Linked DNA regions of Homo sapiens. The protein of the gene in region 3 interacts with the protein of the main gene of each other region in a biochemical or structural test. Each region holds a gene or a part of one and is shown on either strand. Other genes may lie near its edges. The genes, in order: RAF1, ITCH and KSR1.

Region 1 (3,652 bases), on a different chromosome or scaffold from region 3:
AAAAAATGCCTTCCCACATAATCCTCTGTTTTATGGCTTCAGAGGCCTGGTTTCTTCTAATCTTCAGAGGTAACTACAAATTCTTGGTCAGATTTGCTTTTCAAATTATCAAGAAAAATAAAAGCCATACAGAAATATATATCCAGATATATGCAAATTCCTTATTCTAAGATATGCTGCGTTTAATATTTCCATAGTATTTTCACATTAAACATTATCTGATTACACATTATGTGTGTGTGTGTGTGTGTGTGTGTGTGTGTGTATACATAATATATTTTTTTTTGGAGACAGAGTCTTGCTCTGTCACCAAGGCTGGAGTGCAGTGGTGCCATCTCAGCTCACTGCCTACCACGTTCAAGATTCTCCTGCTTCAGCCTCCCAAGTACCTGGGCCAAAAGGCACATATCACCACACCCACCCAGTTTTTTGTATTTTTAGTAGAGATGGGGTTTCACCATGTTGGCCAGGCTAGTCTGGAACTCCTGACCTCAAGTGGTCCATCTGCCTCGGCCTCCCAAAGTGCTGGGATTACAGGTGTGAGCTACCGTGCCTGGCCTAAAGTAAGATATTTTGGATGTAGATTTTACTTTAGGTTTCAAATTCATGTGTGTTAACACTGAGCAGTAGATAAACGCAACAAAACTGATTATAAAGCTGGAAAACAGAGTAAAGAAAGACAAGTTATATGCAAACTCAGAGACACATGAGAAACAATATTTATGCTGAAAATCTAATTAAATGTTTTTAAAGACACTAGTCTATTTAAATACATGGTTTTAGCAAATGCATCGGCCACAACATGCATTTCAAAGTTAAGGGTTTTATTTTTATCAAATCACTGTATTAAGTTTTAGGACCCTTTCCATTGAGGTTGAACTCAGTACATACTGAGGAAAGCAGAATCTCAAGCTCTTTAAAATGTAATGACATATTAAGAAATATGCTATGATAACAGAAGAAGCTACAGTCAAAGTCACTTTCCAGAATGTAAGACCTACAGGTCCATAAACAGAAATTTCTACCTTTTCTGTACCACCAGTATCAAGTTCCACAGAAGCAGCAAGGGGTTTCCACGTAGAGAGGAGGGAATGCGAAGAAACTCTTATTTTTTGTCTTCAAGCTTCCAACCCCACCACCCCAAATAACTTTCTAAAAGAAAAGCTATAGGTAAAAAATTACCTAACAGGCATCCTGGAAACAGACTCTCGCATACGACGCATAGTCAAAGAAGGTAGTGCTGGGACTCCACTATCACCAATAGTGGAATTTGGAAACAATCTAAACAAAAGCAGGGAAAGACTGGTTTTTAGGCTTGCAGTAATCTTACAGAGACAATCAGCATGCCTTGCTTTTGCAAACTCAGAGCTACTAAAACTGAACTTTTCCCAGTCACATTTTCCTCAACTGTTTTACATTACCTAGAATAAAGGGAACAATATTCCAAATAACTGGATTTGAATGATTATTGAATGTGAATAATACTGACCTGCCAATAAACATACAGGCTCCTGTGTGCTTTTTCTTTTTCTTTTTTTTTAAGATGGAGTCTCACTCTGTTGCCCAGGCTGGAGTGCAGAGGTGTAATGGCGGCTCACTGCAACCTCCACCTCCCGGGTTCTCCTGCCTCAGCCTCCCAAGTAGCTGGGATTACAGGCACACACCACCATGCCCAGCTAATTTTCGTATTTTTTTTTTAATTATACTTTAAGTTTTAGGGTACATGTGCACAACATGCAGGTTTGTTACATAGGTATACATGTGCCATGTTGGTGTGCTGCACCCAGTAACTTGTCATTTAACATTAGGTGTCTCTCCTAATGCTATCCCTTCCCCCAATTTTTGTATTTTTAGCAGAGACGGGGTTTCACTATGTTGGCCAGGCTGGTCTCGAACTCCTGACCTCAGGTGATTCACCTGCCTTGGCCTCCCAAAGTGCTGGGATTACAGGCGTGAGCCACCGCGCCCGGCCCAGTGTGCATTTCTAGGAAATACTGGTCCTGTGTCTAGCTATATCAAAATAATATTTTTCAAACTACAGTATAACATTTCACAAACTATGTCACACACAGCTTCTCTGGAAACATTCCATCTTGAAAATGCATAGATAAAAGACTAAAATAGAAGGAATAAATCACAGAAAAGTGAGTAATTAGGCACCTTTTTTCCATGAGGTGGGCACTTGTGCTTAGTAATTTCACAGGTTATGTCAGCAAGCCTCATAAGAACAATGCAAGGAAGGTAATATCCCCTTTATTCAGATGCATGAACGAAAACTCAGATGTGGTTATGGTTAATGACAACACTGAGATTTTGACATATGTCTGTTAGACTCAAAAGCTTGTGCCGCCGGATGCGGTGGCTCACACCTGTAACCACAACACTTTGGAAGGCCAAGGCGGACAGATTGCTTGAGCTCAGGAGTTCGAGACCAGCCTGGGCAACATGCTGAAACCCCGTCTCTAGAAAAAATACAAAAATTAGCTAGGCATGATGGCATACACTTGTAGTCCCAGCTACTCAGGAGGCTGAGGTAGGAGGATTACTTGAACCCGAGAGGTCGAGGCTACAGTGAGCTGTGATCATGCCACTGCACTCCACTGTGGGAGACAGAGCGAGACCCTGTCTTTAAAAAATAATAATAAAAAAAAAGGCTGGGCGTGGTGGCTCATGCCTGTAATCCCAGCACTTTGGGAGGCCGAGGTGGGCAGATCATGAGGTCAAGAGATCGAGACCATCCTGGCCAAGATGGTGAAACCTCATCTCTACTAAAACTACAAAAATTAGCTGGGCGTGGTGGTGTGTGCCTGTAGTCTGAGCTACTCGGGAGGCTGAGGCAGGAGAATCACTTGAACCTGGGAGGCAGAGGTTGCAGTGAGCCGAGATCATGCCACTGTACTCCAGCCTAATGACAGAAAGAGACTTGTCTCCAAAAAAAAAAAAAAAAAAAAAAAAGGGTGGGGGACAAAAATAAGATAAATTTTAAAAGCTTGTGCCATTTGTGCTACTCAAGCTCTCATCACAAAATCAATACGTAAGTGACCATGAAAGCAAAAACATTTTCATCATGGTCTAATAATAACACTCCCTTGGTTTCTCTAGTACTGTCAAAAAAGGACAAAACTTTTAAACTTTTCATATACCTAGTTACAGTTTTTAAAAGGCAGTTTGGACCATGTACTTTTAATGTAAACTTTAAATTCTTTAATAACATTTTATCTATATGAAATATATTGTCTCCTGAAAGAAACAAGAATCTTTCAAGATTTTATATTCAAACAATTTTAAGTCCAAACAACTAAGTTTTCTCCAGTTTGAAGTGAAGAAAATAGCATCAACGGTGCTTTCTGCTCCTTCTCAATGTCAAAGGCTCATTCAGCATATTCAACAAAATACAGAGCAGTGTCTACTAGCAACCCCAGTAGATAATACTATTAAGAGCGAAAAGCAAAAAATCTTCTTGTTTTCATATCCTTTTGCTCCTTTCCTTACTGAATCACAGTCACAGTATGTCAATCTCAATTTGACAGATAACAAGTCCTACTCCTACCTGCTCATTCTGGAGTATGAATGCCACCAAACCTAGCTAGTTTCAGAATTATCACTGTTTCTAAAGTAGTTTCTGGATCACAATTCATTAAATGAGTCTAGA
Region 2 (3,652 bases), on a different chromosome or scaffold from region 3:
TTCTATTTGTGTTGTTTTATACACGTTTATCTCTGTATACTATCTAGACATGTGCATGTGTAGGATTAAGAGGTGGGTAATGAAAAAGAAGACAACATGGCCAGGTGCAGTGGCTCATGCCTGTAATTCCAGCACTTTGTGGGGCGAAGGTGGGAGGATCACTTGAACCCAAGAGTTTGGGACCAGCCTGGACAACATGGCGAGACCCTGACTCCACACAAAATAAAAAAAAATCAGCTGGTGTGGTGGCGTGTACCTGTAATCCTAGCTGATTGGGAGGGTGACATGGGAGGATCACTTGAGCCAGGAGGTTGAGGCTGCAGTAAGCCATGATCACGCCACTGCACTCCAGCCTGGGTGACAGAGTGAGACCCTGTCTCGGAAAAAAAAAAAAAAAAAGACAACATGGTTCAGTGCAGAAAGAATAGAGGACTTGGAAAGAAAAGATCTGGGTTCCGATTTGATTTTGCCACTGACAAGCTGTGTGACTTTCGGCGAGTTATTTAATCTTGCCAGACCTCAGTTTATACATCTGTAAAATAGGTAAGTATTGATTCCTGTCTCCATCCCTGGCATTGTTGTGTGGATCAAATAAAATAATACCTATTAAATCTTTAGAAAAGGAAATGAATTCATGACTTAAAATGTTATCTTGGCCAGGCACGGTGGCTCATACCTGTAATCCCAGCACTTTGTTTGGGAGGCCAAGGTGGGCGGATCACTTGAGGTCAGGAGTTTGAAACCAGTCTGGTCAACATGGTGAAACTCCATCTCTACTAAGAATACAAAAATTAGCAGGGTGTGATGTCATGTGCCTGTATTCCCAGTTACTTGGGTGGCTGAGGCAGGAGAATCATTTGAACCCAGGAGGTGGACACTGCAGTAAGCCAAGATCGTGCCACTATACTCCAGCCTGGGCAACAGAGTGAGAGTCTGTCTCAAAAAAAAAAAAAAGAAAAGAAATGTTATCTAGATCCACAAGGTGAGAGAAGTTGAGAGTAGTATTGTGAAGGAAAACATGAGGACAAGACAGATCACTTTAAAAGGTCAGGAGAGAAGGAAGACTACTGGGTAAGAAAAAAAAAGTAGAACATAAAGTTAAGCAGTAAGAGAATAGGGAGTGAATGAAGTTGAGCAGGTGAATTGTTAGATAAGAAAGCTGAGGCTGGGCGCGGTGGCTCACGCCTGTAATTCCAGCACTTTGGGAGGCCGAGGCGGGTGGATCACGAGGTCAGGAGATCGAGACCATCCTGGCTAACAAGGTGAAACCCCGTCTCTACTAAAAGTACAAAAAATTAGCCGGGTGTGGTGGCGGGCGCCTGTAGTCCCAGCTACTCAGGAGGCTGAGGCAGGAGAATGGTGTGAACCTGGGAGGCAGAGCTTGCAGTGAGCCGAGATCACACCACTGCACTCCAGCCTGGGCAACAGAGCCAGACTCCGTCTCAAAAAAAAAAAAAAAAAAACTGAATAGGAAGATACTGGTAAAATAGAACTAAAATATGATCCAGCATTGCCACTTTTGGGTATATATCCAAAGGAAATAAAATCACTTCTTCTTTTTTTTTTTTTTTTTTTTTTTGAGATGGAGCCTTCCCCAGGCTAGAGTGCAATGGCACGATCTTGGCTCACTGCAGCTTCTGCCCCCTGGGTTCAAGTGATTCTCTTGTCTCAGCCTCCTGAGTAGCTGGGACTCGGGAGGCCAGGCGTGCACCCACCACACCTGGCTAATTTTGTATTTTCAGTAGAGACGGGGTTTCACCACATTGGCCAGGCTGCTCTTGAACTCCTGACCTCAGGTGATCTGCCCGCCTCTGCCTCCCAAAGTGCTGGGATTATAGGCGTGAGCCACTGAGCCCGGTCCTGTTCTTTTTTATAATCAAGAGAAAGGAAGGAGATGGTGGAATGATTTGTGATAGCTACTATAAAGCAATTTAAAAAATATTTAAAAGTATTATTAAAGTATTTAAAATATCTTTAAAATATTTCTCAGCATATCCATTTCATCTCAAGCTCACAAAGCAGTTCTTTGTGGAAAGGTATTTGAGCCAACATTCAGGAAACCTGCGTTCTACCATTGGTATTACTGGTCACTTAAATTCTGTGATCTTGGGCAGCTCACTTAAATCTCCCTGGGCCTGGTTTCCTCACTTATCTATTGAATGTTTTGAATATGATTTCTCAGGTTCTTTCCAGCTCACTCTATTATATTCTGTGCTTTATGTGCTAACTCACTGATTTTTCATGGCTTTGTTGACATCACAATATATGACTGATATCAGAAATATCTTATAATAAGGCTTCGGCCGGCCGCGGTGGCTCATCCCTGTAATCCTAGCACTTTGGGAGGCTGAGGCGGGCGGATCACGAGGTCAGAAGATCGAGACCATCCTGACTAACATGGTGAAACCCCGTCTCTACTAAAAATACAAAAATTAGCTGGGCGTGGTGGCGGGCGCCTGTAGTCCCAGCTACTCGGGAGGCTGAGGCAGGAGAATGGTGTGAACCTGGGAGGCGGAGCTTGCAGTGAGCCGAGTTCACGCCACTGCACTCCAGCCTGGGCGACAGAGTGACAGAGGGATACTTTGTCTCAAAAAAAAAAAAAAAAGGCTTCATAATGTCTGATGCTTTATAAATGAGAAACCATGTTATTTTAAGTTCTACTTTTTTTTTTTTTTGAGAGGGAATCTAACTCTGTCACCCAGGCTGGAGTGCAGTGGCGCAATCTCAGCTCACTGCAACCTCCGCCTCTCGGGTTCAAGCAATTCTCCTGCCTCAGCCTCCTGAGTAGCTGGGATTACAGGCACCCGCCACCATGCCTGGCTAATTTTTTGTATTTTTAGTAGAGATGGGGTTTCACCGTGCTAGCCAGGATGGTCTCGATCTCCTGACCTCGTGATCTGCCTGCCTCAGCCTCTCAATGTGCTGGGATTACAGGCATGAGCCACCGTACCCGGCCTTTTAAGTTCTACTTTAAACATTGGCACTGAGAGACCTGTAGGAAACGTAAGTATAGAAAGTTTAAGTTTGTAATATTTGACAAGGATCTGTTGAGCTGCTATTGTGCTAGGTTCCAAGGGGTACTCAAATATAAAACTCCTGGTTTAAGGATTTTGTCAGGAAAACAGACTTCCTTGCCAGTGATTGATTATTATAAAAAGGAAGTTGGTAAATGTTACAAGAGTTTCATTGCATTGCAATTTAAGAAATTAAGTTCAGATTTTTTGGTTCCTTTAACATGATTGAATGTATTCCTTTTTTTTTTTTTTTTGAGACGGAGTTTTTCTCTTGTTGCCGAGGCTGGAGTGCAATGGTGCAATCTCAGCTTACTGCAGCCTCCACCCACTGGGTTCAAGCGATTCTCCTGCCTGAGTCTCCCAAGTAGCTGGGATTATAGGCATGTGCCACCACGCCCAGCTAATTTTGTATTTTTACTAGAGATAGGGTTTCACTGTGTTGGTGAGGCTGATCTTGAACTCCTGACCTCAAATAATCCACCTGCCTCGACCTCCCAAAGTTCTGGATTACAGGCATAAGCCACTGCACCTGGCCAAATGTATTTTTTTTTTTTTTTTGAGGCAGAGTCTTGTTCTCGCCCAGGCTGGAGTGCAGTGGTGTAATCTTGGCTCACTGCAACCTCCGTTTCCTGGGTTCA
Region 3 (3,652 bases):
ATAGGGTGGAGCCACCAGGAATTCGCGCCTTATGCAGGGGAGGAGCCTGGCCTCTTCAGCTCGTGTGTGGTGGCCTGATATTCAATCTGTGAGATGGGAGCCTGTTGGGAGGACCCCCTCTTTTTTGCTGAGAGGTTTCTTTTAATGAATTCCACTCTCCTCACCTTTCAATGTGTCCGCATGCCTAATTTTTCCTGGTCATGAGACAAGAACCTGGATTTTAGCTGAGCTAAGGAGCAAAAAATTCTGCATCACCACCACACGCTCCTAAGGCACCCGAGGATGCACCAAGGTGAAGGTGGTGTTTAACTGGCCCTGGCCCAGAAGGAGGCCAAGAAGGACGGGCCTCAGAGTGTCAGAGAAGTGCTCATCACCCATGGCCCTTGCCCAGCACCCCAGATGAAATGGTATCAACTGGCCAAAGAGGAGCCTGCTGTTCGTGTTGTTAAATAGCATTTTGGTGTCATCTTTGGAGGGGCATCCCCGTACAAATATTTTGCACTTCAACAAGATGACATATACTACTGTGGAATAAAGTAGATCAGATATAATGTCATCTTGAGTGAGCCTTCTGAAGACGCCCTAGCTGCTTGCCACCAGTCAATTGAGAAAAATATTACCATCTATTAAGAACTTGGAGGACGATGAGGTTGAATTCATCACTGCAAATTTGCAGACAGAGTCTGCAGACAGACAGTGATCCTGCCAGCAATGTTCATGACCTTAACAAGAAGCTCACAGCCTGTTTGTATCTTAGCCTGGACAAGTGCTGGGTGGTCCCTCTGAAGACTTCAATTGTTATGCTGCCCAAATACTGACTGGAGTTGCTTATTAACATCAAGGCTGTTCTGTCCCAATCCTATCTGATTCATGGACACATGGCTATCACTGATGGCACTGAAAACACCAAGCCCTGGAGTTTCTTTATATATCACTGTGCTGTGATAAAGGAAACTGAAAGCTGTCAGAATCAAAAGAGAGTCACAAATGTGAAGAAAACTCTGACAAATCGGGCCTGGGAAAGCCATGAAGAGAGGCTTCTTGGGCTTGTATGTCTGATAACAAAAACTACCACTAAAGACTGCAAAAACTGCAACCTTGTACGAAGGCCATGGCAACCTTATACAAAAATACTCCTACAAGGACATCTGCCTCAAACAACCTGTCTAACCTTGGACTGACATCACTCTTGTTACTCATCTCTGTAGCCAGGGAAAACTACTAAATATGTCAAAATAATTGTGTAATCCTCTTCATTTTTTCCTTTACCTCCCTGAATAAGCAAGCCATTCACCATGGCATGCATATTCCCAGTGCAACGCTCTATTTCCAAATAAACATCTTTTGAGAGCCTCTCTCTCTTATTTAGCCTGACAAAACTTACAAACACAGAGAATCCATTAAGGAGAAACCATGTAGAAATGAGAAGTCGGCCACTATAATTAAGACTTGGTTTTTTGAAAACAAGTTTGCTGTGGAAACTTTGATTTGTTCTTAATAGTCAAGAAAAACATTATGAGGAAAGATTTAATACCACAGCATAGCACAACTATTTGTATTTTCAGCAGTGATTTTTTTAAAAAAAATTATCTTCTTTCATGTAAATAACATGGGGCTTTACTTTCTTTTCATCTCATAAATCAATGAAAACCATTATCTTTAAGAAAAAAAAAAGACTGAAAGGAATGAAAAGGGTGAGCAGTGGGGTGAGGATAGATATTTTCTTATTTATGCCTCCCTGTTCCTTCCCCATTCCCGGGCAATGCATATCATTTTCATCTCTAGCTAGACACGTGCAGGTGGCAGAGCTCCTCACCGACCCCATTTCTCAGGTGGGTGAGTGAAGGGCAGCCATGCCACATGCCCCACCCCACCTCCAGCCCTACTGCTCCACCCAGGGCAGGTACTACTTACACTGACTTCCTTCCCCAAGCTGACAGAAGTCAGGACACGCTTCATTCCTTCCCCGCTTCCAATCTGCCAGATGGATGCCTCTGCAGCCTGGTTCTTCAAGGGCCAGTCTCTTGCTTGCAGCTCATACCAAACAGTCCTGCAGAGACCCAGCCATGTCTGTGAGCTCCTGGGCCGCTGTGCCCAGCTCAAGCCCAGGGGCCCTTGAGCCATAGCCCAGCCAGAGGATCAGGACCCTTCTCCAGCCTTCCTCACCCACTTGGCTTCAGGGGATGCTACAGTGGGCTCCTGGAGGCTCCTCCCAGCCCTAGAGGACCTGGGCCCTGTGCTCTCGTTGGGTGGGAAGTCTGAGACAGCGCAGGTTTGACCGGAGCCTTGGTGGTCATTCTGACCTCAGCACAAATCCAGCTCTGCCACCTTCTAGCTGCAAGATCCCAGTAAAACTGCTTCACCTCAGTGGGGCTAATGTCTCTTGTCACAGGGTTGTTTGAGGAGTACTAAATTGCCAAGCCCAGCACCTGGCACACATGGGTGCTCAGGAAAGGATACAGTTAAAGGTCAGGGAGGAAGGATGGCGCCAAGGCCACCCCACTGGGAAGGATACCCAGATACAGCACAGGTGACCGGGGTGGTGAGCCTTCCTTGGCCTCTCTACGTCCCCTTGGCTTTCTTCACTTGGGATGGGACTTTCTCCATCAGACCCACACTGTCCAATGTGGGAGCCTCTTGCCACAGGGGGGCTACTGAGTGACTGAAATGTGCACAGTTGAATGGAGGGGTGCTCTAGGCAGAAAACACACCAGATTTTAAAGACTTAGTAGGAAAAAAGAATATAAAATATCTTATTAATTTGTATATTGATTACATGTTGAAATAATATTTTGGATATATTGAGTTAAATAAAATATATCGTTTTATAATATATAAAACATAAACAGGGGAAACTAATTTCATCCATTTCTTTTTTAATGTGGCTATTAGAAAACTTTAACTTCTATATCGGGCTCACATTATATTGCTACTGGTCAGCACCCAGGTCTTTGTGGGGTAGCAGAGCCGGCAGGATATCCAGCTCCCCCAGACTGGGAGGAGCAGTTCTTGGTCAGCTCTGGTGAGCATCCTCCCAGATCAGCTGGGTGGGGCTGACAGCCAGTGTTAAGCACTGCACACAATTACCTGATTTAGTCCTCATGAAATGACCTTGTTGGGAGGAGCTATTCCAGGTCAAGGATATAGTCATGCACTCAACAAGCGGCAGAGCCAGGACTCAAGACCATGCACTCAACAAGCGGCAGAGCCAGGACTCAAGGTTGATTTTTTACTCCAGAGCCTGGGTTTTCAACACCTAAAAGCATGCCTCCCTCTGCCCCCAATGGCCACCAGGGCCCTCTGTTTTGGCCACACTTGGCCTCAGGGCACCAGGGGCCTACTCACCCAAATGCATAGACATCAGCAGCTTTGGAGAATGGCAGCTGATCCTCGTCCTTCCCGGGGGTCATCTCGCGTACAATCTCAGGGGCCAGATAGCACAGCCAGTCGTGGGACAGCTTTAGCTGGTTCTCACGCCTGGAGACCAGGAAGCCGGGACAAGGACACAGGCCTTTCAGCAGGCAGCAAAGAGGCCTGCCTGGCACAGGTCTGCCCCAGGGCCGGCAGAACACCCACACACAGCTTAGAAAACACACCCAGACCCAGAACACTGACCCTGCACTTGGGAAAGGCACCGGTGCTTTTGAGGAAT

What was found.
Region 1: of the proteins of KSR1 (region 3) and RAF1, one has a biochemical effect on the other in vitro, tested with the Homo sapiens proteins (one study listed by BioGRID).
Region 2: of the proteins of KSR1 (region 3) and ITCH, one has a biochemical effect on the other in vitro, tested with the Homo sapiens proteins (one study listed by BioGRID).

Annotation. Positions count from the first base shown.
Region 1 is NC_000003.12:12,605,019-12,608,670, forward strand, and holds part of RAF1 (RAF proto-oncogene serine/threonine-protein kinase), read right to left. Parts: intron 1,282-3,652; coding exon 1,183-1,281; intron 1-1,182. UniProt on the Homo sapiens protein: Serine/threonine-protein kinase that acts as a regulatory link between the membrane-associated Ras GTPases and the MAPK/ERK cascade, and this critical regulatory link functions as a switch determining cell fate decisions including proliferation, differentiation, apoptosis, survival and oncogenic transformation.
Region 2 is NC_000020.11:34,369,724-34,373,375, forward strand, and holds part of ITCH (E3 ubiquitin-protein ligase Itchy homolog), read left to right. Parts: intron 1-2,978; exon of another isoform or gene 2,979-3,003; intron 3,004-3,652. UniProt on the Homo sapiens protein: Acts as an Acts as an E3 ubiquitin-protein ligase which accepts ubiquitin from an E2 ubiquitin-conjugating enzyme in the form of a thioester and then directly transfers the ubiquitin to targeted substrates.
Region 3 is NC_000017.11:27,609,892-27,613,543, reverse strand, and holds part of KSR1 (kinase suppressor of Ras 1), read right to left. Parts: intron 3,478-3,652; coding exon 3,346-3,477; intron 2,695-3,345; exon of another isoform or gene 2,167-2,694; intron 2,051-2,166; coding exon 1,915-2,050; intron 1-1,914.